2 linked regions of the Homo sapiens genome follow. The protein of the gene in region 1 interacts with the protein of each later gene in a pairwise test. Each region holds a gene or a part of one and is shown on either strand. Other genes may lie near its edges.

Region 1 (15,870 bases):
TTGGATTTTCAGTTCTCAATGTTTTTTAAACTAAAATTATTAGTTTGCTGTTTCAAAAATAGTACAGCAGATGCCATTTAACAGGCCCACACTGATCAGAAATTAGCCTGTTTGCAAACCAGCAATGGAATTTGCCTAAATATAGATAAAAAGTTGATTTTTTAGGTTGAGAATAGTAGTTACGTAAAAATTAAGTTCAGGAATGGCTGATAAGCATAAGTATTTCCATTTTCTTAGAAGTGAAAAATAAGCCTTAATAGATTGAATTTTTTAAAAAATGGGATTGTATTTCAGTTCAGTCTTTTTAAAGGTAAACATTAAGACAGAATAACATGACTGGAGTAAACTCAAAATGATCAGAAATTATGTTAAATATGGATGTACTAAGCTTAATAATGAAGAGATTGAGACTCAGATCATATTTTTTTTAAAAAAAAAAACAAGATCCAGACTGATGTTAATTATAAAGAACACCTGAAATAATTGGCACAGGAATATTGAAGATGAGGGATGGAAAAAGATTTATCAGGCAAGTATTAACAAAAAGAAAACTTGGATAGCAGTGTTAATATATCACACGAGACGGAATTGAGGTGAAAGCCCCAAATAAGACAGAGATGTATTTCTTGTTAATAATATTAAATTTCCACCAAGAAGATTTAATAGTCACGGTCCCTTTTTTGTGCAGCTTTGAAATATATAGAGCAAAAACGGATAGAACTCTAAAGCCATACTTAACCAAATCCCTTGTCATGGTGAAAATTAACATACCTTTCTTAGAAATGCACTGTTTAAGTAGATAAAATGTACTTTTAATAGAGTTAACAAACTTGATCTAATAGAGCTTTTCTATCTGCCTTTGAGTTGCACATTGGCCAGCCCTTTCCAGTAATAATAATTGCTAACAACTGGTAACATTGAGAGTTTACCGTATTCCCAGTGGTGTTAGAAGTGAGACATAGAGAGGTTGAGTGACTCCTAAGAGCACACACAACAGGGATTTGGACCTAGTTTTACTCCAGAGCCTTAACCATTAAACTATACTGCCTCCCAAGTGACTCTCCTTCTACATCTGATCCTTAGGTATTCATGTTTATTGTAATTAGTTTAAAGTTTTGTTTTTTGACATATTTTGGTCAATTAAAATTGTGAATTCTAACTAGGCAGTAACTTTTCTGAAACTCATTTTAGAGGGGCTTTTAAGATAAATTATTCACAAAAGTCAAATCTAACGGAGGCCTGGCCTTTGTTTCACTTATTCTTTATTTTAAAATGAAAATGTTTTAATTAGTTTATGTTTATTAAACTAAAACATGCTCATAAAAATGTAGACACATAGGACATTTAAAAACACCAAAATCTCACCCCTCTTCAAGTTAAGCTAGTAATGTGTTTGTGTTTGTCCTTTAAGATGTTACATGTATTTTAAAGTAGAATCATCTTATTCTCACTGTTTTATATGTCTGTTCTTGTTTTGAGAATTTTTGTGACCATATTTTCAAGTCTATATAGTCTGAATCATTTTTATGGCTGTATAGTATTCTGTTGTATTCTATTGTATGGATGTAGGGTGATTTAACATCTTTTGTTGGGAATTTATTGTCATAATCTTACACGTATGTCTTTGCACATTTGTCTGATTATTTTATTTGTATAAGTTGGCAGAAGTGAAATTGCTGGGTTAAAGGGAATTGTCTGCTAGAAAGGCTAGTTTATACTCTAACCAGCAGTGTGTGAGAGTATCTAGTTTCCCACACCTTTGCCAACAATGAATTTTACAATTATTTTTAACCTTTGAAAGTCTGACAGATGAAAAATACCTTAATATTGTCTTAGTATATTTTTAAATTACTTGGTGAGGTTGAACATTTTTGGGGATGTTATTTTGCCATTTTAAAATTTATTTTTTGAATTGTTTCTTTTTTTTTGTAAATCTGTTAATTTATGTAACTCTGTCACGTGCAAATGTTTTTTCCCAGTTTTACATTGCCTTTGTCAGTGGTTTGTAGAATGCATTGTTATTACACAAGTAAAGAAACAGTTCCATCACTTACACCTTGCAAACATTTTAAGCACAAAAAATTAAAGTTGGTCAGCCTTTCCTTTATTAGATGCCTTGTTACCATGCTATTACAAGTTTTCCGTATTCTGAGAATTATAAAAATGTTCATTTATATTTTTTCTAGAACTTTTGTGACTTCATTCTTTAATAGCTCACTTATTCTAAGCAATAAAAATTGAGATTCCTAAGAAAAGAAACTATATTGTTTCTTAGAGCTTGTTTGAACAAAATTCAAGCAGTATATGTGTGATAGACACACTTGTATAAATGACAATTGTACCTAATTGATAGAAGCATAACATAGGTAGTAAATCCAAACTATTCTAAAGTATTCTGCAAGTTGATACAGATAGTAATTAAAAAAGTTTTTTAGAATATTTGTCTTTTTTTGCAACCATTATTTTTTTAAAGAATATGGGCAAGATGGCATTTTTAGAGAACTGATTTTATTCATCTTTAGAGAAGTAAATTTTATTTGTTTACCTTTTAAAGTAAGGTGTAAAATATAAAATATTTAAAAGTTGTAATTATTTAGCAAATATTTATTGAGCAGAACCAGCTTTCAGAGACTGTTTAAACTAGTGAGAGATAACCTAGTGAGAGACAAATAATTGTAAGTAAAATACATTCTAGAGGCATGATTGTTATATAGGTTTTGTATGGATTAAACATCAGTCCATATTTTTAAAATTGTGCACAATCTGTTTTCTTTGTCAGCATTTCAGTTTATGTCCTGTTTTTCCCACCCTGAGCAGAAGAGAGTGTATTTACTTAACTTTTCTTAACTCCTCTACCCACAGTTTAGCTTCCACTCTATCTTAGCATTATTAAATTATTGGGAACAAGTTTAGACACTCAAGAATAAAAACGTAAAATTATTAGTTTTTCCTATATTATAGGCATTAGTGGTGTGGATATTAATCAAGAAGAAAACTTTAAATCTTTTATTCCTGAACTTTGTTGAGAAATTCACTTCAGTTCTCTCCCTTCAAGCCTTGGTATGACATGCCGTAAATCCACATCTACCATATCTATATCTTACTTTGAATGAAATTTTCTTTTTAAATAGAATTTTGGGCCTGGATGTTGAGCTTTTTCCTTAAATATGTGTGCAACCCCGCCCCTATGTTTTTTCTTTCCTAGATGCCTGTCCCATTTTCAAATAATATTTCTTATTTCCTAATAATTCAGTTAAAAATACCTTCCCTAGCTTCTTGCTTCTTTGAGAACCCAGATCTGTTGCTGTTAATTTGTTAGTCTTGTGCTTTGTTAGTGTTCCCATGCTAAATTTTGCTAAGTTTGTGAAATGCACTTTTGAGTTTGTAAAAGCGCGTTGATTATTGACCTGAGTGGTAGGCTTAGAGGAGAGGCATGAAATAATGAGTACACGAGTGAACTGAATTGGGTTCTCTGTGAAATTGCTATGGTGAACACGATATGTAAAATTGGTTTGTACACCAGTAGCCACAAACATTGCTGTTTTTCTTAGGGATTTTTAAATAATAAAATAAATTTAAAAATCTAAATTAAATGGAATCAATATTGGCTTTGGTTAGTAAGACTTTGGCATTGCAAGGGAGCCAGAAAAACCTGTTTCACTTAACTCAGCTCTTTGAAGAGTTGTAGAAATTGGGGGTGGACTGGAGCAGAAACTAGAATTGTGTTAGATTATGACATCCTTGCCCTTGAGACAACAGCATGACTCCTCCTTGTCTTTACTTATGCTATTCCTCTGCCTGGAATGCCTTCCCTCCTTTCTATCTAAATCCTACCCACCTCCTCCACGAAGCCTTCTCTAACTACTGGAGCCCACATTGATGTCTCCCTGTTCAGAACACCTATGGCATCTAACAGCCAGCACTGCACCGTTTAGCACTGTTTGTCCTATGGCAATTTCACATGCTACTGAGTGTGAGTACATTAAAATATAAATGTGGGGAAATATGCATTTTTCCAGTAAATTTGAAAAACGATAGGTGTATTGTATACAGGAGGATTTACAGGCTATAGAAAGTTTTACAGGATATGCCTAAACTGTGAGATTGGGGGAGGAGGGGAGTTGGGGAGGGGGCTAAATGTACTTTTTTAAAAAAACTCAGAAACATTGTAAAGTTTATACAAATTGTTTTGTCCAAAGTGTCATGTTTTTTAAAAACTAATTTATTTTTATTCAGTAACAAGCCTAATTTTTTTTTTTATTTTAAAAGGTTGAGAAATAACATTTTCTGTAGTGTTTAATACTATTCAAATGATCAATTCTGGGATCAAAAAAGTTTTCTTCTTGCTTAGGCTAAGATACCTCTGTTCACCCATCTAATCTCATATCTTCTAAACCCTGCTCTTGGTATCAAATACTGAAATGTAATAAATGTCCAATTTTGTGATGTGGAGAAAACTGTATTTTATTATATCTCTTGTGTCTAATTTTGGGTATCTTTTACATGGTTAATATGAAGGGAATTTTAAATGTAAAGATAATTTTGATTTGTATTTATCTCATCTAATGCTAAGGGAGTTCAGACCATTGCTTTAACTAGATTTAAAAAAAAGCTTTCTCCAAGTCAGTGTATATTCAGAGTGTGGCCACACAAATATGAACAAATATTCTTAAATCATATTAAAGTCTGCTAAAGCTGCCTATATCTTTTAATTGTACCTGTGATCAGTTACGTATTCATTCTTTGGTTTAAATATATTTTTGATTATCTGACGACTTTTGAATACAGACCACATTTAGTTTCCTATATAATTAAGTGGATCAGGCTTATGCGTAGAATTTGTGAATGGTTCTGATAGAAGAATAAATAGCTTTATTGTACATTCTTTACATATGAAATGTCCTTTTAATTACATAATTCTTGAGCATATTTACATTTGGACAACAATCACATTAATTCTGGAGTAAGGTTAATATATAAAATGTATATGCTTGAAATACATAAATTTTCATTTAAACTGATTTTAAATGGTTTTGGTTTCTGATTGACTTTGTAATGATAATGTCTTCTATTTAAAATTCAACATGGGGATATATGATGTAAATGGTAATGTCCATTTGAATATTTTCATATAAGTATATATTATTCTATGTGTGTTTTTTAGAGGTACCAATCTTGGGAAAAAGAAGCAACACATTTGTCATATACCAGGATGTGGTAAAGTCTATGGGAAGACCTCACATCTGAGAGCTCATCTGCGTTGGCATTCTGGAGAACGCCCTTTTGTTTGTAACTGGATGTACTGTGGTAAAAGATTTACTCGAAGTGATGAATTACAGAGGCACAGAAGAACACATACAGGTTACTAATACTTACTTTTAACAGACAAAAATGAATTATAGGGCTACATAACTGCCTTGACTTCTTTTTTATTAGCATTCCTTACTGAACTGAATCGATTTAAAATACAATGAATTACATCCAATTTTTACCTTTAGTAACACCATCTTAATAACACAAATTCCAAAGAACAAGTCAGTCTGGCTTATCTTCTAAAATAAAGTTATATTTAAGTAGACTTTGGGTGGCTTTTGTTGACATTATTGAATGCTTTAAACCACATTTATACTATTTTTATTCTGTTAACATTTTTAATTAGTTGTCAGCTTTTACTCTTGATCTATCCTATTTTTTTTCTTTCCTCTTAACACTGTAACAAAAAATACTCCTGTTTCTTCTGACATATTTGGGCATTTCACCTTTTCTTTTGTTTTTAGTATCTCTGAGGTAAGGGAAAGGTATTTCACTGAGGAATAACCAAGGCAATGTTGATGTGAAGACTTTCTCTGATTATATTATTTTTACATAGTGTTGTGTGGTTGTTAAATGAAATGGACCTGTGACTGATCTACACTGAAACCTAACAGTGTTAACTTAGAGATAGTTTTTTCCTACTACCATGTAAATGATTAAAGTGTTCATCAGTCTATGCTCAACACTGGAGAATTGAAAACTATGTATTTACAATCCCTAGAGAGCTTGGAAGAAGCATGGTAAAATGGAGAACAACATGGATTTTGAAGTCATCTGGATTCCAATCCAAGTTCCCTATTAGGTTAAGCGAATAAACTATCTCTGACGTTGCTTCACATATCCTACTTTGGCCTTCAGTATTGTATAAAATTACCTATGAAGTCTGTAGTAGTATACAGATGCTCTAATAGTTTTAGTTCCTGTCTCTCATTGGGTAGGTAGACAGATGAGATTAACCTACATGAAACTGCAACAGACAATTAAGAAAGTAGATAAGGCTGCAGGGCGTGCTGGCCCATGCCTGTAATCCCGGCACTTTGGGAGGCCAAGGAAGGCAGATTGCTTGAGCCTCAGGAGTTTGAGACCAGCCTGGGCAACATGGTGAAACCGTGTCTCTCCTAGAAAGACAAAGAATAGCCGGGCGGATGGTGTGTACCTGTAGTCCCAGCTGCTCAGGAGGCTGAGGTGGGAGGATTGCTTGAGCCCATGGGGCGGCGGTTGCAGTGAGCCAAGGTCATGCCACTGTACTGCAGCCTGGGTGACAAAGTGAGATCCTGTCTCAAAAAAAAAAAAAAAAAAAAAAAGGTAGATAAAAGATTTTGCGTTGCAGTCTGCTGTTGAAAAGGCTCAGAAACAGAGATAATTACTGCTTGGGATAGTAAAGTATGGGATAATAGATCTTATGATGGCCCTGTTAACAGAATTTTCCTCAGTAGGATTTTATCAGCAGGTTGTAAAAAGGAATAATGTAAAAGGGAGAAAAAGGTCAATGATCAAATAAGTGTAGGAAATAGTGGGCCAAAGAGGGTATAAGTACCTTCAAGGCAGTACCTCTTAGGACCTTTAAATTAAATGCTAGATTGACAGCTTGCATCTATAAGTTAGTGATGTAATGTGTGTGTAGCATTTCCTAACCTTGTGCCGTTTGCCATGGAGTACCTCTCAGGACTAATGTTACAAGAGAAACTGGGAAATACTTTAGTAGAAAAATGGTGGTATGTTAATAGAAGAAGTGAGAGACCTTTTTTTGTAGCGGTGAATGAGGATGAGATTTTACATAACATTTCTGTTAAGTAGGATTGAGGCACACTTTAAAGGTCCTTGTAAATTAGGCAGTGGAGCATCTAAACTGTTACGTCATCTGCAAGTTACCCTTGCATTTCCATATCACTTAATATAATCTTGAAGTTTTCTGATGTAATAAAATTTGGTCTTTAAGGAAGATAGTCTGGAGAGAGAGAGAGACTAGGATGTGACTGCAGTATAGTTCAAGCATGAGGTCTGATAAAGACCTATGTAGAGTAGAGGTGCTAGAACAAAGGATACAAGCTAAGACATTTTTGAAGAAAGGAATTAAGAAAATATTTACTAGATTTATTGATTGATTTTTATTGATTTCTCTCTGAATTCCTTTTAGGTTGGCCTTTTGTCTTCTCTTTTGGTAATCTTGCAGAGTCGGTCTTCAACATAATAGAAGTTCAGTCTGTCTTTTGTATTTAAACTTACTTTATTCATGCTGGGAAATAAATTTAGGCATCAGGATTTTAACAGCTTTAACATCTTAACATATTAGGCTTGTTCTTGATTGTTGTAGCTGAAGTCAAGTCAGCTAGCCAGATTCATTTTTCTAAGGATTACTCATTCTTTTTGGATCTCAAGCTTGTGGTGTCATTTCTTTAATCTAGAAGTACCCTGTTGCTTTAATTCATATTTAAGAGTTGAAGGTTTAGTATCATGAACATGGCATGTTAGTATTTTAATTATAGCGTGAAAGAATATACTTTTATTTAGACTTTAAAGTGTGTTATAGATGCTTATTTTTTAGCTGGCATCTTAACACAGGTATTTCAAACAAACTCTTAGCGTAGTTGAGATATTAAAGTCTTATTTGAATATCCATCTATTATATAATACATGTTTGAAGACTGCTAGTCATCAAAAAGTAAAGATGAAAGATTTAAGGAGAAATATTCTGTAAGAGAAATCTGGCAGGGGTAGCTCGTAAAATGAATACAATTTTAATAGACCCCTGCTCCCATCCTCACCTGTCAGCGTTGACTTACTTTCTGTTTTGGGGGAGATGATTGAGCTATTAAAGTTGAATTTTTAAAACCAAGTAACTTAATTTTTTTCTTAACAGGTGAGAAGAAATTTGTTTGTCCAGAATGTTCAAAACGCTTTATGAGAAGTGACCACCTTGCCAAACATATTAAAACACACCAGAATAAAAAAGGTATTCACTCTAGCAGTACAGTGCTGGCATCTGTGGAAGCTGCGCGAGATGATACTTTGATTACTGCAGGAGGAACAACGCTTATCCTTGCAAATATTCAACAAGGTTCTGTTTCAGGGATAGGAACTGTTAATACTTCCGCCACCAGCAATCAAGATATCCTTACCAACACTGAAATACCTTTACAGCTTGTCACAGTTTCTGGAAATGAGACAATGGAGTAAATATTACACAAATACTTATTCATTGTGGTTATTTTTATACAGTAGTGAGAAGAATATTGTTCCTAAGTTCTTAGATATCTTTTTATTGATGTGCAAAAATTTTTGGATTGACAGTAACTTGGTTATACATGACACTGAAATGCCTTACTTTGTATGATATTCCATAGTATATTAAAAATGGTAAAATTGCATGGGTTTTGTAGGTACTTTTGGAATCTAGAAGAAATGAAATTTTACCAAGTTATATAAAGAGAAAATTGAATTTAACAATGCGAATGGTAGTCTAACCAAATGCATCAATCCTGTGTGGTTTAGTGTAAAAATGAGAACATGTTGGTATTTATCTATTGTAAGATAAAAAAGCTGGTGGGTGAAAGAAATCATGTTATGATAAAAAATTTTGTAATTTTCTTGATGACTGGAATTTTTATTATGCATAACTGACAAATCAAGTTTCCAAGCAAATGTTACATAGTGTAGGCTTTACTTAGCTTATCAATTTGTCATTTTGAAGCTAATTATTTTAATTAGGTTAACTATGTACAATATTTTAAGCATTACTCTTGTAAGATTTTGAAAACTACATTTTAACATGGAACTCTAGGGATAGTCACCTTTTAAATCCTGTTGAAAAGCCATGTTTAAGATTTAATTTGCCAAAATAATGTCTTGTTAATATTCTTTCAATAACGAAGTTGGGCAATATAACCAATGTTTAAAAAAGTTTAAAATGTATAAGTTGAGGCATTTGGGTGGTAAGAGAATGTTATAGTGAATTATCCCTTTTCTTGACTATTGGAGGACCAAAAAAATAAGGTGTATTGCGTCTTAGCAGTGATTTTTATCCAATCTTGTTTCCAAAAACCATGTCTCCCAGGGCCTTAAAAGCCATCATGTAAATTACCAGTAAAGTGTAACATATGCAAACATAACAAAATCACTTCCATAGTGACGATACTCCAACCATATGGATATTAGTCATAGAAGAACTAGAGGTTTTATGATATTTTTTTAAGTCTTTTTTTTTTTTGTCTAGGTAGTCAGTCTGCACTTAAATATCAATCATTTTCCTTTTTTGCTTCTTCCCTTAAAATTTATATGTATCCAGTACATTTAATTGAGAAGCGTATGTTTTTTATTATGCTGTATTTTCTTTTTATTTTTTAATTATTGTTTATATTTTCAATTCAAAAATGTACAAAATAAAGTTACATTGCTGGTCTTGTAAGAGCTATACAGTTTTCCTAAATGTATACCTGTAACTGCAGCAGTTCACCTATTTCAAAAATTTGGAATTCTGTTCATTTGTTATTCTTAAGACCACCTCAAATTTAAAGGCTACCTTATTGTACGTTTAAAGTGTATTATAACAGTGTGGTAGTTAATAAAACACTATTTTTTTTTCTTTTGAGTTTGTTGTATTCCTATGCATAAAAAATATTGCAGTGGTATGGGGTAAGAATTGGTGGTTTATTTTTCTTCAACTTGGCTTTTTATTTTTAGATTCTTGATTTTAGACACTGAATTGTAAACAGGCATTTATTTGAAGAAGAGATATATAGAGACACTGGTCATTTACTAATTTTTTACCTAGAGTAAATAAGAATGAGCTTATTAAATAAAATTTTTGAAAAAAAGTCTTAGCCCTTAGCCCACATTGATTCATATCAGTTTTATCAGTACCATTTTGCAATTTTTTTGTTTTCCGTTTTAAAGCAATGCAGAATATTTTGATTTATCGAAAACCTGAATTTACATTAAGACTCCTGAAAATGATAAGACAAGCGTTGGTAACCATGGCAGGAGTTACTTGAAAAAGTTGCCTTTGAATTTGCATGTGTTTCATCATTATAAAGGCAGAGTAGGAGGAAAGAGTATTAATGTGATTGTGTATTGTAGATGTTTTAAAGTAAAAATCAAGTTTCTTAACACATGTATACAGTGGGGGTAAAGATGTCCATTTTCTGTTTTCCAGGCCCAGTCTGACTCTGTCTGTAATACCTGATTGCATTGGAGAACTCTAGACACGCATAAACATGGACAGTTTTTCTAAATGTGAGACTTAAGCCTGTGATGTAAAATAGGAAGTTCTACTTGGAATAATATAAAGGAACCACTAGAATTTACAATTATTTTGAAGTTACAGGGATTAGATTTTGAATCTTAAAATCCTTTAGGTAATTTTTAGAATTTTTAAATTAAGATTAATGTGAAGAGAATTAAGTGAGCAGCAGGTGGTTCACTTGAGCAAACTGCCCATTAAGTCAGATTAAACCATTTGAATGATAGTAGAGATGTTTTAAGTAATACTGGATTTTTACAGTAAGTTTATGGTGTACTTTGAATCGATAGGTGTCCATGCATATTTTATGAATTCGTGGAGAATGAATGCAATGAAGAAAGTAAGTAGTCTTGAAAATTATTTAAATAAAGTTGTAGATTTTTTTAGTGCCCCCTAGGAATATATTAGTGAACTTTGGAACTTTTACCAAAGTTATGTAACCTCAGTGTAGATAATTTTAAATATTTCTATTTTTATATTTTAAAATGTTGAATATACTCTGGAAACAACATTTGAAGATTTGCTCTGATGTCAACTTTTTCTGGTTATAAAACCTATTAGTATTGTGTATAATTCTCAGGGTAGGTATACTCTAATAGGTGTTTTGTCAATTGCTTTATTTTTGTAAAGGCTAGAGTTAGTGCATATTGAATATATTTATGTACAAATAATTCCTGTTGTAACATTTAGTGGACGCGATTATCTGTATACCTCAAATTTTAATTTAAGAAAGTATCACTTAAAGAGCATCTCATTTTCTATAGATTGAGGCTTAATTACTGAAAAGTGACTCAACCAAAAAGCACATAACCTTTTAAAGGAGCTACACCTACCGCAGAAAGTCAGATGCCCTGTAAATAACTTTGGTCTTTCAAAATAGTGGCAATGCTTAAGATACTTAAAAATACACATACATATAAGCTGAAAGCATGTCAAGCCTATTTCATAGAAAATAGTTCTTAAACAGTATTGTTCATTAGAAATTGCTGGGGAGCATTTTAGAGATTCCATAGGCCTGGTAGCCACCTCAGCTTACTAAATCAACATCTCTGGAGATGGAGTGTATATGTGTTTTGAAACAGCTGCTCAAGTGGTTCTGTTAAACACTCCTGCGTTACAATCACTTAAAATAGAGCAAGCATCCCCTTAGGCTCTTAATTGTAGTTTAAATTCCAGTACTGCCTACTCAGACCCAAAAGTTTTGTTTTATGAAAAATTTGTATTGTGTTCAATATTGTTTGAAATTTGGGGTTGTTGCATAAATGATTATGGAATAACATTTGGTTTTAAAATAATATAAACTGACATGTTATGCTACCTGTTACACAATTTGGTTTTCAGTTTTAATTATATGAAGCTGGTAACAATCGTTTTTGTTGTAAAAGAATTATTTTTCACTAAACAGTATGTTTAAAACTGACTGCCATGAATGAGTACTAAGTCTTTTGTTGTCTGACAATAAGCACAAAACAAATTAATTGATATCTTTGGTACAAATTTGATATTTTTGTGAAATCACCTCATAATTTTATTTAGTGTTGAAGAAACAACATTGGCCCCTTGCCTTGTTCAGACAGATTTGCGTATAATGTAAATATATATATTAGTGGCAGAAACAAAGTACTGTAGAAACCTAGAAGAGGGAGAATTCTGCATGAAGTCTGGGAAACTCAGCAGAAATGGCGTTTGCAAAGGTACAGTGTGGTATGTTGGGTGATGGGGGACTTTGTGAGGGACAGAGTGGAAAAATTTTTAAGAGGGGCTGCCAAATTGCAAAAGAGAAGAATTTTTTTTGTCAGTGATTCCTAGTCTTTTTGGAATCCTACACCTTCTCCCCAGAAAAATTCATTCTAGTCCAGGGTTTATTGTTTGTTTTTTCCCTATATTTGACAGGGTCTGTCTCTGTCACACAGTGCAGTGGTGCAATCATGGCTTACTGCAGACTCCACTTACTGGTCTCAAGCAATCCTCCCCACTTCGGCCTCTTAAGTAGCTTGGACCACAGGTGCACACCACCATGCTCAGTTAATTTTAATTTGTTTTGTAGAGATGGGGTCTCACTATATTGCCTAGGCTGGTCTTGAATTCCTGGGCTCAAGTGATCCTTCCACCTCTGCCTCCCAAAGTGTTGGGATTATAGGCGTGAGCCACCACGCTTGGCCAAATCTGGAGTCTAAAGGGTATACAAGGTTTTTTTTTTTCCCATGTTGGCTTTTATTTGATGTTATAAAGTCTTCATGATATGAATATATTTTTTAAAAAGGTGTCATGTATATTGTCATGTAACATGATTCATGCCACTTCATTGTATTAAATACGTTTAAGATACAGTTTTTGATGTTAAGAATGATATCCTGAGAAGGCCTATCTCCTTCAGTCCTTTTCCCCATTTTTCACCTTTTAACTCTTGCTTCTGAATCTATGCTAAGCTACTTACTAGATGTGTGATATTGGTAGTTTTCTTACCTTAAAACCTCATTTTCATCATCCATGAAGAGGCTAACAATAGTACTCCCTGTTGATAGGATTGTTGTATTAAAATATAAGCATTCAGCATAGTGCCTGACTTAACGGTAGAGATTCAAATGGTAACCTCCTTCCAATGCCTTCCTCCCCCCTTAACTCTGGAGATTCCATTTTTCTGTAGTGAAGTGTTTTAGAATTTTCATTGTTTGACTATGGTTCATACATTGATTTTTCCAAAATGAGAAGAAGTCTTATTTCTAATGCAAAAATGTGAAAAGAACAGTTGGAACCTAAAGTGATAGTGGATGAAGTGTCTGAAGTGACTGCCCTATCAGAAAAGGATGGAATAAGAAGAAAAGACTGAAGCACCTAAATGTGTATTTTCTTGAGGAAATTACACCCCTGTGTAAGAGTCTATCCTATTTGAACATTTCTAAAAACCAGCCGAAGAATCTTCAGGTTCATTGCGACTGAAAGATAAAGTCTAGCACTGAAGTGGTTTTTAAGATTAGGAAAGGCCATCAGAGAAATGCAGTTATTTCTCCCCTCCATCCTTCCCCCACAAAAAAAAGTCTAAGCCTCCGATTAATCGACAACAACGAAATACAGGAAGTATTGGCTTAGTGACCTTTTAGGATATCTGTCCGACTTACATCCCTTCTCTGAGCATTACTTTCTGCCACCTTCCGTGAGGAGCTGTTCAGAAATCAGACAAGGAGTGGACATCTGGTCAAAGTTGAGCCAATTAGATGATTTCTCCTGAGAATTTGGAATTGGAAAACTGATGTCTTGGGAGGTCACATCTGGAACATACATGGGAGGCAGAGAAAGCAAAGATGACATTCAACCCCAGAAGAAAAAGAAAATGGCTTTCTTGATTCCTGATAACTTGGCAGTGTTTGTTCCAGTGTCTTGCATTTCACTATCTGCATTTCATCCTCCTGGGGTTCCACAAGATAGCCTTAAAACCTTACAGAGAGACTCCCCAACTTAGTTTTTTCTTAAGTCAGAAGGCTGTTACTTGCTACCAAATAATGCCAACTAAGACAACTGAGGTACAGTATATTCTCTCGTAAAACACCATAGAGTTGATGACTTGATCCTATAGAAAAGGGTCCCCAACCCCTGGGCCACAGACCGGTACTGGTCCCTGGTCTGTGAGGAACCACCTGGGCCACAGACTGGTCCTGGTCCCTGGTCTGTGAGGAACCAGGCCATACAGCAGGAGGTAAGCGAGCATTCCTGCCTGAGCTCTGCCTCCTGTCAGATGAGCCACAACATTAGATTCTCATAGGAGTGCGAACCCCGTTGTGAACCCCGCATGCGAGGGATCTAGGTAGTGCCCTCCTTAAGAGAATCTAATGTCTGATGATCTGAGGTAGAGCAGTTTCATCCTACAACCATCCCCACCCCCCGACCCCCATCCATGAAAAAATTGTCTTCCTCAAAACTAGTCCCTGGTGCCAAAAAGTTTGGGGACCGCCGTCCTAGGAAATACCAACAAAAAGTCACGTTTATTGCCTGCCAAGTGAGTCAGGTTTAGACAAGGCAGAACTTAGTATATAGCTTGGATGAATCAGAAAGGGTGGGCCTTGAAAGACTGGTAGAATGTGTCCAAGAAAACTGATTAAAAGCCTTAGAAGTCCCTCTACAGTTTCAGGACGCCCTCTTAACAGATGGCTGTATCTTTATCTGTGGTTGGTCTTGTGGAATACTGACTTTCTGCCAGCATTAGCCTGTGTTTCTATGTCACACCAAGTCACGTATATTTTCATTGTGTGTTAGGACTCAGAATAGGTTTGGGTCTTTCTTTTAATTATGTATACCCAATTACTTAGTCCTCCTCACACCCTGATCCTTTAAAAATTCTTAAGTTGTGTTAATTGCATTTTTCTCAATTCTACTCCTAGTAACTCTGTGTGTTTTTTTCCATCTTTATTCATTTAGTAAAGTTGAAACCTTTCATAGCATAATATAGTGATTAAGTGCATAGGTTTGGGACTTAGACACACATGGGCTTGCTTGTCTCCCAGTTCTGCCGCTTACCACCTATGTGACCTTTCACTCTTTACCTTTCCACTCTTAGCCTGTTCTCTAACTATAAAATGAGAATGATGCTAGCGTCATCTTCATAGAGTGATTATGGAGATAAATAAGTTAATGCATGTAAACCACTTTCCATAATGCCTGGCACATATTATATTATGTATTAGTAAATGTAAGCACTGGAAGAATCAGTAGTCTTCCTACACTTGAAAATAGTTGTCTTCAACTATTGTTGTATTAATGAGTTAATTCACCTTGTTAAGTCACCTTGATCCACCTAATTGTCAGCCAACATTTATTAACGAAACTGCTAGTATTCGTATTGTGCCTTTTTTATTATGAAACATTTCAAGAATACAGAAAAATGCAGAAAACAATGTAACAAATACCTAAGTATCTATCACCCAACTTTTATAGTCTTATTTTTACCTATATATTTTTTCTTTTAGAAAGGAATGATCACAGTTGTGCCTGAAATCTGTATAGCCCTGTCTCATTTCATTTGTCTCCCTTTACCCACATAAGTAATTGCAGCTCTGAATTTGATGTTTATCAGAATGATACCATGAGTGGTTTTATATCCTTATTATATGTATGCATACCTAGGATTGTTTTTCTGATTTTGAAACTTCATATAAATGGTATCATTCTGTACAAAACCTTCTGGGACTTGTTTTACCACTCATGTTTTTGAGATGTATCCACACTACCATCTTTCTCTAAATCATTCATTTAAATGCTGTAGTTCATTGAATAAGTTTATCACAATGTATCCATTTTCTTCTTGATGAGCATCTCAGTTATTT
Region 2 (16,112 bases), on another chromosome or scaffold:
GGACAGAACTATGTCATGTGGCCATTGTAACTGCAGGGAACTTGAAAATGCGTGTGTGTTTTTTTAAAGTCAAGTCCAAGTGTATTGAACTAAGTCCAGGCCTCTCTGAACTGAGTTGGAGATCCTTTAGTAAAAGAAGGGGAGAAATGATATTGGGGTAGGCATCTAGCAGTGACTTGTAGAAACCAATGGTCCATCTGGTATAGGGCTTCATCTTGGTATATGGCATACCCTGATGAGACATCGTGCCTGGCCTCTAATATGCTATCCTGCAATGAACCAATCATAGTCATGAAAACCTCATATCATTACAGACTCACATGTATCTTCCTAGACACTTCTTCTGGTAATGAATATATTTTCAATTTATATACGATTCTTTCTCTGGTTATTTAATAAGTTAGTGAGATTTAAAAATGTATTAAAATTGCTTCAGATCCATCACTGTCATGAATGATGTTAGAAAATATTTGCCAGAAGCCAAACATTTGAACAGCTTTAACCATGACATCAGAAAAACTACAATTACATTCAGGAAAGAGCTGCTTGATGTGTGACATTAAAATGCAGTTCCCCAGGCAACTGAGAGGGAGATACATTCAATAACAACAGAGCTTCCATGAATTGCTAAGATCTTACAGAATTTGCAACACCTTTTATTTATTTTTCATTGACAGTTAAATTACAACTTGAAAGCATCTGCTGACTAGAAAACAAATCCTCTGCTCTGGATAAACTAGGCCTCCTCCCAAAATAACTACTACCGATAGAGGAGCTCGGGAGAAGTGGGGAGCAGTGGAAATGTGCAGATGAGACATACAGCCCTGCCATCGGACACTGTTGTGTTGGAGATAATGCTCTGCAGATAGATATTGATCCATGTCTAGATTGTCCCTTCCTCAGATGATAGAGCCCTGACCCAGTGTTCTCATCATACATAAGTTTGAAAGCCTTCTTGATGAATGGTGTCATTTCGCAATGCCTAGTTGGGAACTCAGCATATGGGCTTTTAATAGTAAATTGCATTCAGTGAAATGCATCTTTTGAGGTATCATTTCATAGTTCTGTCATCAGGTGTTGCACTAAGTACATTAAAAAATATATTAGCCCAGCACGGTGGCTCACTCCTGTAATCCCAGTATTTTGGGAGGCCAAGGCAGAAGAATCTGTTGAGGCCTGGAGTTTGAGACCAGCCTGGGCAACAAAGTGAGACCCCCATCTCTAAAAAACAACAACAAAAAAACCAAACTCTAGTTGGGTGGTGGAGTTTAGGTGTGAGAGTTTGAGAGAGCAACAATATTAAATGGTGGCTCACTCCTGTAGTCCCAGCTACTGGGGAGGCTGAGCTAGGAAGATTGTTTAGCCCAGGCATTCAAGGCTGCAGTGAGCCATGATCATGCCACTGCACTCCAGCCTGGGCAACAGAGCAAGACCCCTTCTTTAAAATAAATAAATAAACACCAAACTTGTAGTATTTACAATACAGTTTTACCTCAGTTAAATCACTCTGTTGCTGAAAATCTTGAAACAAACTATACCCTATTGACTTACATTATAATTAAAAAAAATTTTTTTTCTATTTTCATTAACCAAGGAACAGAAATGTTTTATTTCAACTTTTGATTAATTTTCAGTTAATGATAAGAAACAGCACTTTAAACTGGGTGTGGTAGCACGAGCCTGTGATCCCAGCTACTCAGCAGGCTGAGGCGGAAGGATCACTTCTTTTTTTTTTTTTTTGAGACAGAGTCTTGCTCTTCTCCCAGGCTGGAGTGCAGTGGCACAGTCTCAGCTCACTGCAAACTCCGCCTCCCAGGCTCAAGGGAGTCTCCTGCCTTAGCCTCCCCAGTAGCTGGGATTACAGGCATGCGCCACTATGCCCAGCTAATTTTTTTATTTTTAGGGGTTTCACCATGTTGGCCAGGCTGGTCTTGAACTCCTGATCTCAGGTGATCTGCCCACCTCAGCCTCCCAAAGTGCTAGGACTGCAGGTGTGAGCCACCACGCCTGGCCGAGGATCACTTCTTGAGCCCAGGAGTTCAAGGCCAGCCTTTGCAACAGTGAGACTCCATCTCAAAAAAAAAAAAAGAACACTTCAAGTTTTCTGTCTATACTTAGACTCTCTTAAGTAAAGCAGCACCAAATATTATTTTTTTTTCCCCAAGGGATCTGCCTTTTTAAAAATTTTTAAATTTTTTCTTTTTTCACTGGTTGTAGCAACAATAAAATCTAGGGGAACTTGCTAGAATTAAAATATTGCTTTTGTATAAAGACATTTTTGTCATTAATAATGGCCAATACTTATTTTTCAAATTGTATATGTCTAATACTGTTGCTCTCTCAAACTCTCACAATAAGCCTATGACAAAGACTCTATATATAATACTCATTTTACAGAGGAGGAACCAGGCTTAAAGAAATTAAGAAACTTGCCCATTGACAACAAAGATAATTGATGGAGCCAGGCCATGAACCCAGACAGTGAAACTGAAGGTTGTTTCTTTACCACCGCATGACATGGCTGTTAGGTTTTTTCTACATTTTTCCTTTTGTTGCGCTACTTTTGGTTTCATTTCTAAGAAATCCAATTGCCTAACTCAAGGTCTTGAAGATTTATGCCTATATTTTCTTCCAAGAGTTTAATAATTTTACCTCTTACATTCTGATTTTCTTTTGTTTTATTTTTTAGAGATAAGATCTCGCTATGTTGCCCCGGCTGGCCTCAAACTCCTGGGCTCAAGACTTCTCCAGCCTCAGCCTCCAGCATAGCTGGGACCACAGGTGGCTGTTACTGCACCTACCCGATGAGTTTATTTTTGTATATGTTGTGAGATAGAGGTTCAACTTCTTCCTTTTGTATGTAGATATCCAGTCGTCCTAGTATCATTTGTTGAAAAGAGTCTTCTTTCCCCATTAAATTGTCTTGGCATCCTTGTCAAAAATCAATCAAACATAAATGTAAGGATTAATACACTTGTGTGATATATTTGATTACATTCCCTCACATTCATTGAGTTCTTTACCTCAGGAACCCTAATTATCCTTACACTGGATCATCTTTGTCTTCTCTAATAGCTTTCATGTTTGTCTTTTGTTCTGTATTCACTCTCACGTCTTTCCTTATGTCAGCAATTACAGTTTCAGCAGTATCTACTTTGTACATGGTTCTTTCTAATTGATTCTATAATAATGATGGTCCTCAATTTATTTTGTTGATCCATAGCTCCCCTTTCAATTCTATTATTTTGGCTTTTGTCTTATTAAATTCATGATTTTTGTTTGTTTGTCTGTTTTTTTTAGACTGAGTCTCGCTCTGTTGCCCAGGCTGGAGTGCAGTGGCGTGATCTCAGCTTACTGCAACCTCTGCCTCCCAAGTTCAAGCCATTCTCCTGCCTCAGCCTCCCAAGTAGCTGAGATTACAGGTGCCCACCACGCTGGCTAATTTTTGTATTTTTAATACAGACAGCGTTTCACCATGTTTGCCAGGCTGGTCTCGAACTCCTGACCTCAGGTGATCTTCCTGCCTCAACCTCCCAAAGTGCTGGGATTACAGGCATGAGCCACTGCACCCAGCCTGAATTTATACTTTTATTGAGTTAGTCTCTGGCATCAAACATTCGTGAGGAATTTTCTTCTGTTCCATGAGATTTGCTTTCTTCTTAGTTGCATTATTTGCCTTTATGTCTCCTGCATGCCATATGATGTTCCCCCTTGGTTTTCTTTTGTTTTGTTTGGCTGGTGTGTGTTTGCACGGTTGCCATGCTGTTTCTCTGCCCCCTGCCCATGCTTGGGAGGCTGTTTCCTGACACTGCGTATCTCTGATATTGTTGAGACATCTTCAGGTTTTTCCATGATAACAGAAGCCCTTTTGTTTTCCTGACTCTGCTGCAGTCTGGAGCTTGAGGAGCTGTGTTGCATCCCTTCTTCTGGGGTAATGTGGAGGCAGGGACAGAGTTCAGCAGCGCTGAGGTGCACTTTCTATTAGCATCCCTCTTAGCATCTGCCTGTTCTTCTGAGATGGTATTGCAGATTCTCTACCAGGGACACATGTCTGTTAGGGTATCCTTTATGGGTACATTTAGGCTTTGGATGGCTTATTATACTCAATATGAGGCTCTTGGGCCTTTTTTTTTTTTGAGATGGAGTCTCGCTGTGTCATCCAGGCTGGGGTGCAGTGGCGTGATCTTGGCTCACTGGAACCTCTGCCTCCCAGATTCAAATGATTCTTCTGCCTCAGCCTCCTGAGTAGCTGGGACTACAGGTGCCTACCATCATGCCCGGCTAATTTTTGTATTTTTTATTAGAGACGGGGTTCCATCACGTTGGCCAGGCTATTCTTGAACTACTGACCTCAAATGATTCACCTGCCTTGGCCTTCCAAAGTGCTGGGATTACGGGCTTGGGTCACCATGCCCGGCCACCTTTTCTTTGTACCTTTCTACCTTGATCCAAAATCTCCTCCAGAGTTTGAATTTCAAGTATAGAGCCTCCATCAAGTTCACTTAAATTTGCTTTTTTCCAATTACTGTTGCCAAATACCCAATGTTAGTTTGTCTATTACCCTTGGTGTTTGGACAAATTGAAACTGTGGTTTTCTTCTGCTGTTATACCACAACAACAGTCAACACAGAAGACTCTGTGACCAAATGGGTGGGGGTTTTCTCCCACACACCAAGCAGGGGACATCAGCTAGGTGTCCTCCCTCTTATTTAATTCAATTCTGATTCTGCCTACCTGGAGATAGCTGTAGATCCCACAAGTTGAAGGCTCAGTCCCCAACACTGGCCCCTCCTTTCCACCACTCACAAGTCTGGGCCTCTGGAACTTTTGATTGACTGGCTTCAAGTTGGGGTTTCCACAACCCCCTCTTTGGGTTCAATTAATTTGCTAGAGTGACTCAAAGAACTCAGGGAAACACTTACGTTTACCAGTTTATTATGAAGGATATTACAAAAGATACAGATGAAAAGATGCATAGGGTGAGGTATGGGGTAAGAGGTATGGAGTTTCCATGCCCTCCCTGGGCACACCACCCTCCAGGAACCTCCACATATTCAGCTGTCCAAAACCTCCCTGAGCCCTGCCGTCTGGGCCTTTTATGTTCGTTGTATAGGCATGATTGAAGCATGGACAGCCGTGTCAAGGTGTGATTGACCTCTCTGTGCAGCCATGCTTCCTCCAGGGTATGAGGCAGGACCCTGTTTGCAATGAGGGTTTATGATCCGTAATCAGAAAGGCGGGAGATGATTAGAGTCCTGCCTTTAGTGAGTGGAAGGGGAGCAGAAGGTGAGAGAGAGAGAGAGAGAGAGAGAGAGAGAGATTGATTCTATTTTCTGAGGCCTAAAGTGCCCCAACATTGTAACAAAAGACTGTGAGTTATGAACCAGGTACTATGGCTGAAAACCTACATATACATGTATCATCATATCACACTTGGCAAACAACTCTTTGTACATTTCTGTAGCACTGCAGTGTTCAGTCTCTGACTTGGTGTGTCTTTCTCATCTGCCTCTTTGTTCTGCTGCTGTCCTAGAAATTAGAGACTTTAAAAAATTCCTTGGCTTTTTGGTAGAAAGAAACTCCCAGACTGGGTCCAAGCTGAAAATGAATCCCTTACTGGGTGAAAAACATGGATGCGGTAACAATTCCTGGCTGTAAATGCTCATAATATTACTGTTGAACCATTTTATGCTAATAAATTATCTGGGACCTACTTCCCTTTTGGTTTATTCCTCTTTTTTTCTCCTGTTGCTACTTATAACCATCCTTGTCAACTATCTACATTTTACTATTAAATTATTCATATAATGTTGGTGATTTCAAAGTTTTCTTGTATTATTTTTGGGCATTTGGCCGAAAGGCACTGCCTCCATTTTACAAGTTAGCATGTATCCAGAGGCCCTGTCCTGCAACAAAGGTGCAGGTGCCTCAGTGGCAATACGTGTAAGAAAATGTTAATTTTTAGGGTAAAAATTTCATTAGAAACTGTCTTTGTGGAATACAATATTAGTTAATCTTTACACATGTTTTTAAAGGAAGACGAAAGATTGCCACTAAAAATAAATTCGTACTGAAAGCATCTCTATCTACTCTCTCCATTTTTAAAGTACCTCACTTAGTATCTTTGTTTTCATTTGTTAAATGCAAGGTCATCCTTTGAATGTTGTCTTCAACTATGCTTGAAATAGCTTGAGACCCAGCAGATAATTCTGACCAGGAGGTATCAGCAGACAGTGGGCAGCACAGTTAGAGGAAAAAAATGTTGCAGGGCCCCACTCCCAATAAAAACCTACAATAAAAAATTTAAAAATTTTAATAAAGAGGAAAATGACAAAGAGGTTTTCCAAAGGATGTTCATATTCTCTATTTAAAAACCCCACTGGGCCGGGTACGGTGGCTCAGGCCTATAATCCTGAGCCCTGGAGTTCGAGACCAGCTTTGGCAACATGGTGAAACCTTATCTCTACCAAAAATACAAAAATTAGCCAGTCTCATAACCCGCTCTTAAATAAATAGATTAAAATTTAAAAATAAATAAATAAATAAATAAATAAATAAATAAATAACCCCACTGATATGAACATTTCTTCCATTTTGGAGTAAAGGTGCCTACAAGGCTAGGCAATGTCCATATTTCTTTCCTGAATGTTTCCAACGGGGCTGCGCCTAGAGCAGATGTATCATAAATACTAATTACTTATTATAATGACCAAGCTACATTGTTAGCATAGAATAATTCCACAGGCTTCCCTATTGGTTTGTTTGATCCTAAGCCTATTAATACCTGCTTCTATGTCAGAAAATCTACATTAGGCCAGGCATGGTGGCTCACACCTGTAATCCCAGCACTTTGGGAGGCCGAGGCAGGTGGATCACCTGAGGTCAGGAGTTCGAGACCAGCCTGGCCAACATGGCAAAACCCCACCTCTCCTAAAAATACAAAAATTTAGCCGGGCATGGTGGCAGGTGCCTGTAATCCCAGCTACTCAGGAGGCTGAGGCAGGAGAATCGTTTGAACCCAGGAGGCGGAGGATGAAGTGAGCCTCAAAAAAAAAAAAAGAAAAAAAATATTATTTTGATACATGTTTTAAAGCTCACCTTCGGCATTATGAGATAATCCCTCAAGTGAGGAAAAAGGTCCATTTATTAATCTCAAAGAAAACAGTTACAGCAGATGTCACTGGTTAAGAGTTCAGTTGGTGAATAGCATTTCACAATTTGTACCAACATCTGGGGAAAGACGCTTTGCATGGAACTGTAAAACAATTGAGCACCAAATCTGCACAACTGCGTTTCTAGAAAATGCGATGGGTTTTATAGAGATGAGGTCTTGCTATGTTTTCCAGGCTGGTCTCGAACTCTTGGCCTCAAGCGATCCTCCCGCCTCGGTCTCCCCAAGCGCCGGGAGTACAGGCGTGAGCCACCGACGGAAATGGATTTTAAGTGAAAGTCCTATCTTCGTTTGCAAATCAATTTTTCCAGGATCAAAGTTCTAGCAACCATAAATCCTATCCTTCTAGACATAGGGACCCACATAAGGGCCACTTGATGTGACACTTGCCCCGACAGCGGTGCCACCTGGCCCCTAGGTGGCAGGTGCGTTTTTAACTAAACCCAAGAGTCTGAAGTCACATTATTCTCTTGCCTTGAAAGCTTAAGAGTTGGTTCCTAATCGGTGGCTTAACTCGGTCTCTCTCCAGGCAAGGCCACCTGTTTGCTGATCTTTCACAGGGCGAGGGGACCGGAGCCCTTCAATGCAGCGCCCTCTTGGCCTGAAGAGGGGGCGACTGGGCGCCCAGACCGCGTCTTTCTCACTGAGATCCCAGCTCCTGGACGACTGCCTCTTTTCGGGTTCGGCTCATTCCGCAATAAGTGGAGGGGTCCCGCCTGATCCTAGGGGCCGGCGCCCTTTTCCTTCCCTCCCTGCGCTTGCGAACCCCTCCGGGCGTCTCCGGAGCCGCGACCCCTGCTGGGGACCCCGGGGGCGGGAGGCCGAGGGGCGCGGCGAGGGCCGTGACGCGAGGCGGGGCCGGCCAATGGGAGCGCTCCGCGGCGCAGGCTGAGCCGCCGGGCCATAAAAAGGAGGCGCGGCCGGGCTTTCCAGCCTGTGGCCGCTCCCGGCTCGGAGTGTGATCTAAGCAGGTTGCGTACCTTCCTCAGGTGACTCCGGCCACAGCCCATTGTCCGCGGCCACCGGCGGAGTTTAGCCGCAGACCTCGAAGCGCCCCGGGGTCCTTCCCGAACGGCAGCGGCTGCGGCGGGTCCATGGAGAAGGGCCCTGTGCGGGCACCGGCGGAGAAGCCGCGGGGCGCCAGGTGCAGCAATGGGTTCCCCGAGCGGGATCCGCCGCGGCCCGGGCCCAGCAGGCCGGCGGAGAAGCCCCCGCGGCCCGAGGCCAAGAGCGCGCAGCCCGCGGACGGCTGGAAGGGCGAGCGGCCCCGCAGCGAGGAGGATAACGAGCTGAACCTCCCTAACCTGGCAGCCGCCTACTCGTCCATCCTGAGCTCGCTGGGCGAGAACCCCCAGCGGCAAGGGCTGCTCAAGACGCCCTGGAGGGCGGCCTCGGCCATGCAGTTCTTCACCAAGGGCTACCAGGAGACCATCTCAGGTCAGTGCGCCCGCGGGCTGCTAGAGCGTGCGGGCGGCGGGGGCGGTGCTTGCAGGAAACGCGCGCCGGCTCCAGGAAGTTTCCGGAGTTGCCTCACTTTTGGCGCAGGAAGCCGGGCGCTGTCACCTCCGAACCCGCCCTAGCCTGCCGCCCTGCCGAGGCCCTGCGTGGGGCACAGTCGGGGCTTCCTGGGTGGCAGCGACCTCTCAGCCCCGGAACTCGCTGCAGCCGCCTTCCAGGGGCCCTTCCCGCTCCCAGCGCGCAGCCCTCCTAGAACGCCCCGGGTGGGCGTGGACGGGAGCCCGGAGCCCTCTCGCCTGAGCGCCCAGCGCGGGATTCTCGGGGTACCTGCGGTTCCAAACTTGCCCACGATAAGGATCACCTGGGCACTTGCTGCGGCGACGGCTTCCTGGGTAGTTCCTTATTGAGATCCCATTGTCAGGGTGTGTATCTGGATTGAAGCCTCGGCGCGATCCTTCCCCGAAACCTCGGGGACCTGCATTCCCACTGATTTGCCAGGGGATCGGAGTCTTAGAGTTGTGCTTTTTTTTTTGTCCACCTCAAGTTTACTCCAGTTCAGGACATTTACAAAATTCGGCACAATTTTGGGCACGGGCTTCCCCGGAGTTTGAGGTGTGAGGTTGATTGGGTGAGTTTGCTGCTGAAATCTGTTTCCTCCCCCCACCCCCAACCCCGCAAAAAGCAGTAAAGCTACTCCGGGATTCGGAGGGCTCCGTGGGTTCCAGGACTCAGTCTCATCCCCGCACCCTCCCACCCTAAAATAAAGCCGGGTTGACCCGGTGCTGTTAGCGTCTGAGGCGTGTCGGCTTTTCACCCAGAGGGTGGGGATGCAATCAGTGTGGGTAGGATGCAAGATGGGGTGATGGAGAGTGGAAAATGGGGACTTTGCTGCCTGTTGGCCAGAGAAGCAGTATTGGTCTGTGTTTAAAAAAATAAAGCTTCTGGCTTCTACAGCTGGGACCAAAGACATTATTTTCCAGTCTACACCTTCCGTGTGTCTTGGTGACATTTATTTATTTGCCCTAAGAAGCATTCTACCGTTCACTGTTTTTTGAAAGAAAAACAGTGCGCTGGAAAGGCAATCTCCCTGCCCCAGTTATTTCTCTGAAGGAGTGTAGAGCGATTCCACCAAATAGACCCTGGGAAAAAGAAAGTTATTTTTTGCCCAGTCTTCCACACCCCAAAGGAAGGGTGGGAAATCAGAATGTGAAAGAGACGGGGCCCCAAAAGGAAATGATGCTACACTCTAAAACCGGCAGTGACTTCTAGTTCTGTTTCCAAATTCACTTTTTTTTACCCCTCAATTGCAAAAGTTTGGAATCTCAGAAGAGATTTCAAAATACAAAGACTGAAAAATAAACTTTCAGTTTTCTGTGGGATCAGCTCTTTGGAGGTCTAGGGCTTTAAATTTGTGTGTGTGTGTGTGTGTGTGTGTGTGTGTGTGTGTGTGTGTGAGATATTTCACAATGTAATGAAATGTCTTCTTAAGGCCTTACTCATTTTGCCCCTTGCAGACACAGAAAGTGGTTTACTTCACAGCATCGGCCAGGCTTTGGGAATCCTCCCTTAAAGAGAATTCATAGGACAGTGTTCTGTAATCTAGCATGGATCTAATTACCCAAAGAGAGAGGAATTTCTGACCCTGAGACAGGTCACAGAATTATCTAAAGTGACTCACAGATTTACTTGAGAAATGGTTAGCTGAAATATCTCATGAGCGAAGATTCATTTAAAGAGGATTAATAACTGCAAAGAACACATCATTCCACATTAGAAAACTGTTCTGGTTGGCCGAGCTCGGTGCTCACGCCTGTAATCCCAGCACTTTGGGAGGCCGAGGTGGGCGGATCACCTGAGGTCAGGAGTTCAAGACCAGCCCGGTCAACATGGCGAAACCCCGTCTCTACTAAAGATACAAAAAAATTAGCCGGGTGTGATGGCGGGCGCCTGTAGTCCCAGCTACTCGGGAGGCTGAGGCAGGAGAATCACTTGAACCCAGGAGGAGGAGGTTGCAGTGAGCCGAGATTGCACCACTGCACTCCAGCCTGGACGACAGAGGGAGACTCTGTCTCCAGAAAAAACAAAAAAAACAAAAAAACTGTTCTGGTCAAGTTTTACTATTTAAAAAGTCCATGGGCCGGGCGCGGTGGCTCACACCTGTAATCCCAGCACTTTGGGAGGCCGAGGCGGGCGGATCACCTGAGGTCAGGAGTTCGAGACCAGCCTGGCCAACATGGGAAAACCCATTCTCTACCAAAAATACAAAAATTAGCCGGGCATGGTGTCAGGTGCCTGTAATCCCAGCTACTCAGGAAGCTGAGGTAGGAGAATCATTTGAACCCTGGAGGCGGAGGTTGCAGTGAGCCGAGATCGCACCATTACACTCCAGCCTGGGCAACAAGAACTAAACTCCATTTCAAAAAAAAAAAAAGTCCATGGATGTAGAGACACTGCAAGATTAGTAGTTGTCAGGGACTGGCGAGAAGAGGGGGATGGGTAGTGATTGTTTAATGAGTATGGAGCTTCCTTTGGAGCTTCCTTTTGGAGTCATGAAAATGTTCTGGAACTAGAGAGTGGTGATAGTTGCACAATATTGTGAATGCCACTGGATTGTAACTTCAAGATGGCTAAAAATGACCAATTTTATATATATTTTACCACAATATAAAGACAGGTTTTGTGGCGTGCCTGCAGTCCCAGCTACTAGGGAGGCTGAGGCAGGAGGATAGTTGTTGCTCAGGAGAACAGCCTGGGCAACGTGGGGAGACCCTGTTTCAGAAAAGAAAAGTCCATGGAGCGGACCATTTAAGATTATTATTATTATGTTTATTTTCATGTTTTTGAGACAGGGTTTGGCTCTGCTGCCTAGGCTGGAGTGCAGTGGCGCAATCTCGGCTCACTGCAGTCTCACTCTGCTGGACTCAAGTGATCCCACCTCAGCCTCCTGAATAGCTGGAACTACAGGCTTGTGCCACCATGCCCTGCTAATTTTTGTATTTTTGATAGAGACGGGTTTTTGCCATGTTGCCCGGGCTGGTCTTGAACTCCTGAGCTCAAGGGATCTGCCTGCCTTGGCTTCCCAGAGTGCTAGGATTACAGGTGTGAGCCACCATACCCAGCCCATTTAAGATTATTATAAGCCATTAATTGAATATAATCATGCATTACATTATGATGTTTCCTTCAATGATGGACCACATGTATGAAGGTGGTTTATAAGATTACAATGGAGCTGAAAAATTCACATTGTCTGGTGATGTCTTGGTGATCCTGACCTGTGTAGGCCTAGAGTAATGTGTTTGTTTGTGTCTTAGTTTTTTCCTCTCGTCTCCCCCATGTCTTAGTTTTTAACAAAATTTAAAAATTAAGAAAATTGGGCCAGGCATGGTGGCTCACACCTGTAATCCCAGCACTTTGGGAGGCCAAGGTGGGCGGATTACTTGAGGTTAGGAGTTAGAAAGAGACCAGCCTGGCCAACATGTTGAAACCCCATCTCTACTAAACATGTAAAAATTAGCCAGATGTGGTGGCGCATACCTGTAGTCACAGCTACTTGGAAGGCTGAGGCAGGAGAATCACTTGAACCCAGAAGGTGGAGGTTGCAGTGAGCCGAGATTGCACCAATGCACTGCAGCCTGGTTGACAGAGTGAGACTCCGTCTCAACAGTAAATAAATAAATAAAAATAAAAATTAAAATTAAAAATAGAAAAAGGTATAGAACAAGGATATAAAATATTTTTGCACAGCTGTACAATGTGTTTTTGTTTTAAGCTGTGTTATTACAAAAGAGTCAAAGTTTTAAATACATTAAGCTGAAATTATTGAAGAAAAAATATGTTTAGTGTAGCCCAAGTGTACAGTGTTTATAAAGTTTACAGTAGTGTACAGTAATGTCCTAGGCCTTCACATTCACTTACCATGCATTCACTGACTCACCCAGAGCAACTTCCAATCCTGCAAGCTCCTTTCATGGTAAGTGCCCTACACAGACATACCATCTTAAGTCTTTTCTACTATATTTTTACTGTACCTTTTCTATGTTTAGATGTCTTTCTAAAATTATTATTATTTGTATTTTAAATATAGAGGCAGGGTCTCACTGTTTTGCCCAGGCTGGTCTCGAACTCCTGGGCTCAAGTGATCCTCTCCTCTTGGTCTCCCAAAGTGCTGGGATTACAGGCATGAGCTATCCCACCTGGCCTACATATCTTTAAATACACAAATACCATTGTGTTACAGTTGCCTGCAGCATTCATTACAGTAACATGCCATACAGGTTTGTAGCCTAGGAATAATAGGCTCTACCGTGTAGCCTAGGTGTGTAATAGGCTATCTCATCTAGGTTTGTGTTAGCACTCTCTTCCTTCAGTGTTTGCGATATGAAACTGCATTTCTCAGGTGTTTCTCAGAATGTATCCCCATTGTTAAGCAATGCATGACCGTACTTTTTAATGGGTTAAAAGCTTTACGTTGGATGGTCTTGGTTCATCTTCCAGTTTTCAAGTAAACATTTCTCTTATCCCCATGACAAGGCAACTGAGGCAGAGAGGTTGACACAAGTAGTAGAGCTGGTATTTGAATCCAGAGAGTCTGACTGCAGAATTCTTAGCCACTTCCTTATACTGCTACAGAGAGAACTGAATCAGTGTACCCTATCTGTATATTTCAAACTGTGAATTGGGTCAACAGCATTAAAAAAAAAAGTGGAGTAGCCGGGCGCGGTGGCTCACGCCTGTAATCCCAGCACTTTGGGAGGCCGAGGCGGGTGGATCACCTGAGGTTGGGAGTTCGAGACCAACCTGACTAACATGGAGAAACCCCTTCTCTACTAAAAATACAAAAATTAGCCAGGTGTGGTGGTGCATGCCTGTAATCCCAGCTACTTGGGAGGCTGAAGCAGGAGAATTGCTTGAACCCAGGAGGCGGAAATTGCAGTGAGCCAAGATTGCACCATTGCACTCCAGCCTGGGCAACAAGAGCGAAACTCAGTCTCAGAAAAAAAAAGTGAGTAGAGGTTGGGCACGGGGGCTCAAGTCTGTAATCCCAGCACTTTGGGAGGCTGAGGTGGGCAAATAACGAGGTCAAGAGATCAAGAACCCCGTCTCTACTAAAAATACAAAAATTAGCTGGGTGTGGTGGTGCGTGCCTGTAGTCCCAGCTACTTGGGAGGCTGAGGCAGGAGAATCACTTGAACCCGGGAGGCGGAGGTTGCAGTGAGCCGAGATTGTGCCACTGCACTCCAGCCTGGCGACAGAGCAAGACTCCATCTCAAAAAAAAAAAAAAAAAACAAAAAGTGGAGTAGAATGGATAAGATCAGTCTATCACATATAGTAAGGACAAGTGTTTTGAGAAACTTCTTCTTTTGTTTTTTTTTTTTTTGAGATGAAGTCTCACTCTGTAGCCCAGGCTGGAGTGCAGTGGCGCGATCTGGGCTCACTGCAAGCTCGGTCTCCCGGTTCACACCATTCTCCTGCCTCAGCCTCCTGAGTAGCTGGGATTACAGGCGCCCGCTACCACACCCGGCTAATTTTTTTTTTTTGTATTTTTTTAGTAGAGATGGGGTTTCACCGTGTTAGCCAGGATGGTCTTGATCTCCTGACTTTGTGATCCGCCCGCCTCGGCCTCCCAAAGTGCTGGGATTACAGGCGTGAGCCACCGCTCCCGGCCGAGAAACTTCTATGTAGGTTTTATAGGCATAATTGTGTGTGTGTGCACTGGCTCCAGATGTAAAATGCATTTCTTACTGTAGGTTGTAGTCAAAAGTTTGAAAGCCTGTATCTAGGGGATCTGTTTAAGGATTTAATATTTCTTTTTTTTTTTTAAAGAGATATATAATTAAAGAGAAGACAGAGTAGTGAGAACAAGGATGATGCTGAACTTAAAGGAATGAACCTGAAATGTGGTGGGGTCTTGGACCAACCTGGATGGCAGGGAGAAGGAAGGATACTGGTGGGAGATAGGAGTGAGTGGGAACCCACATCTTTAGGTCCATAAACGCTTCTGCACAATCCCTTTTATTTCTTTAGAGAGCATGAGTCAAGTGGCCACTATATATTGTTTTTGGATAAGAACATACTTCTCTGAAGGTCACTTTTCTGTGCTTGTAAACAGGATACAGGACTTTATATCTTTTATATATCTGTATTCTATATATTAACTCCTGGTTAGTAATGTTGACTTAAGTGTTGTAAAATTTAAAATAAGTTGGTATTTTACATTCTTCAAAATCCATTTTTCCTCCCAGTGCCTCTTGTGTGGATTGATCCAAATTCCTGGCATTCTGGGGAATTTGTTCAGTTTTCCCTACGTTGCAGCGTCTCTCCATGACTGTCTCCTTGTGCACCTTTTCCCTACTTTCCAGTGTGTACCTTCCATGGGAGCATCTGTGGTCATCTGTGACCAGGGTGGTGTCAGGGTTGTATAGGTTTCCTAGTACTATTCCCTACTGGACTGTAGCTCATGGGCTAGGAGGGAGGGCTGGAGGAGACGCTATCATCTCTCCCAGGAACTGGCTGTCCTTTGAATCTACATCACAAGCTGATCCTTGGACCAGCTCAGACCAGCTCGTCTTGATCTATTTCTGTGCCATTTCAGTTTAGCTGTATCCTAGTTCTCTTAAATATTCAAGGTTTTATCTTGGTGAGTTCTCCTTTCTATATAAGGTACCTTTCCTGTATTTCCACTATTCTTTTATTCAGAACCTACACTTAGTTAAATTGGAGAGTCTGCTATTCTCTGAGGGCCTTGATCTTCATGCCCCTGTAACTGACCCTTCCAGGTATACATGGGAACAGCCTTTCAGACAGCATTATCTACCAAGGATTAAATGGGTATAACTTGTTCCATCAGTTGTTTTTTATGAGTTTTTGGGAATATGCAAGAGTCTTGACTCTGTCACATTTCCAGTTAAAGTAGGTTTTAGCTTGTCTGCCAAGACAGTTTTTATAAATCATGTTAACAGTTCAAAATTTTGGGAAGCATGCATATAATCCAGCGTGAGGAGATGGCATTGGAGATGGCTGACTGCTTCCCTGTGAGGGCTGAGGAAGCACAGACACTGGCAGTGAGTCATATCCCCACCTCAGCCATTTTCACTGGAAGATTATGTCTATTCGCTAAAGATAATGGGAGGCAATTAGATACTTTGTTTATACAAAAATGCATCTTAGACACTTCATACTGAAATGTAGCAATCACAAAAGGTTTTTCTTTTTGAATCACAAACCTCTCGGATTTATTAAATTAGACTGCTGTGGTGAACTAAGAATTTTAACAACTTCTAAGATGTGAAGAGGAACAAAAACATAAACTATTTACTATTCTCTCCTATATCATGGGTGAAAGGTGAGTTTATATCCCAAGTTTTAAAGTATATTATAGAAATGCTCTTCTCATCATTAAAAGGTACTATTTTAGATGTGTAGCTCACTCAAATTTTGATCCATTAATAATTTTTGTGCTTGGTTTGTTAATGAACACTT

Evidence for each region.
Region 2: the proteins of SP3 (region 1) and GCH1 interact in a two-hybrid assay, tested with the Homo sapiens proteins (one study listed by BioGRID and IntAct).

What each region holds. Positions count from the first base shown.
Region 1 is NC_000002.12:173,902,561-173,918,430, reverse strand, and holds part of SP3 (transcription factor Sp3), read left to right. Parts: intron 1-5,164; coding exon 5,165-5,361; intron 5,362-8,173; coding exon 8,174-8,490; 3' UTR 8,491-15,870. UniProt on the Homo sapiens protein: Transcriptional factor that can act as an activator or repressor depending on isoform and/or post-translational modifications. Binds to GT and GC boxes promoter elements. Competes with SP1 for the GC-box promoters.
Region 2 is NC_000014.9:54,894,817-54,910,928, reverse strand, and holds the start of GCH1 (GTP cyclohydrolase 1), read left to right. Parts: upstream 1-8,102; 5' UTR 8,103-8,265; coding exon 8,266-8,608; intron 8,609-16,112. UniProt on the Homo sapiens protein: Positively regulates nitric oxide synthesis in umbilical vein endothelial cells (HUVECs). May be involved in dopamine synthesis. May modify pain sensitivity and persistence.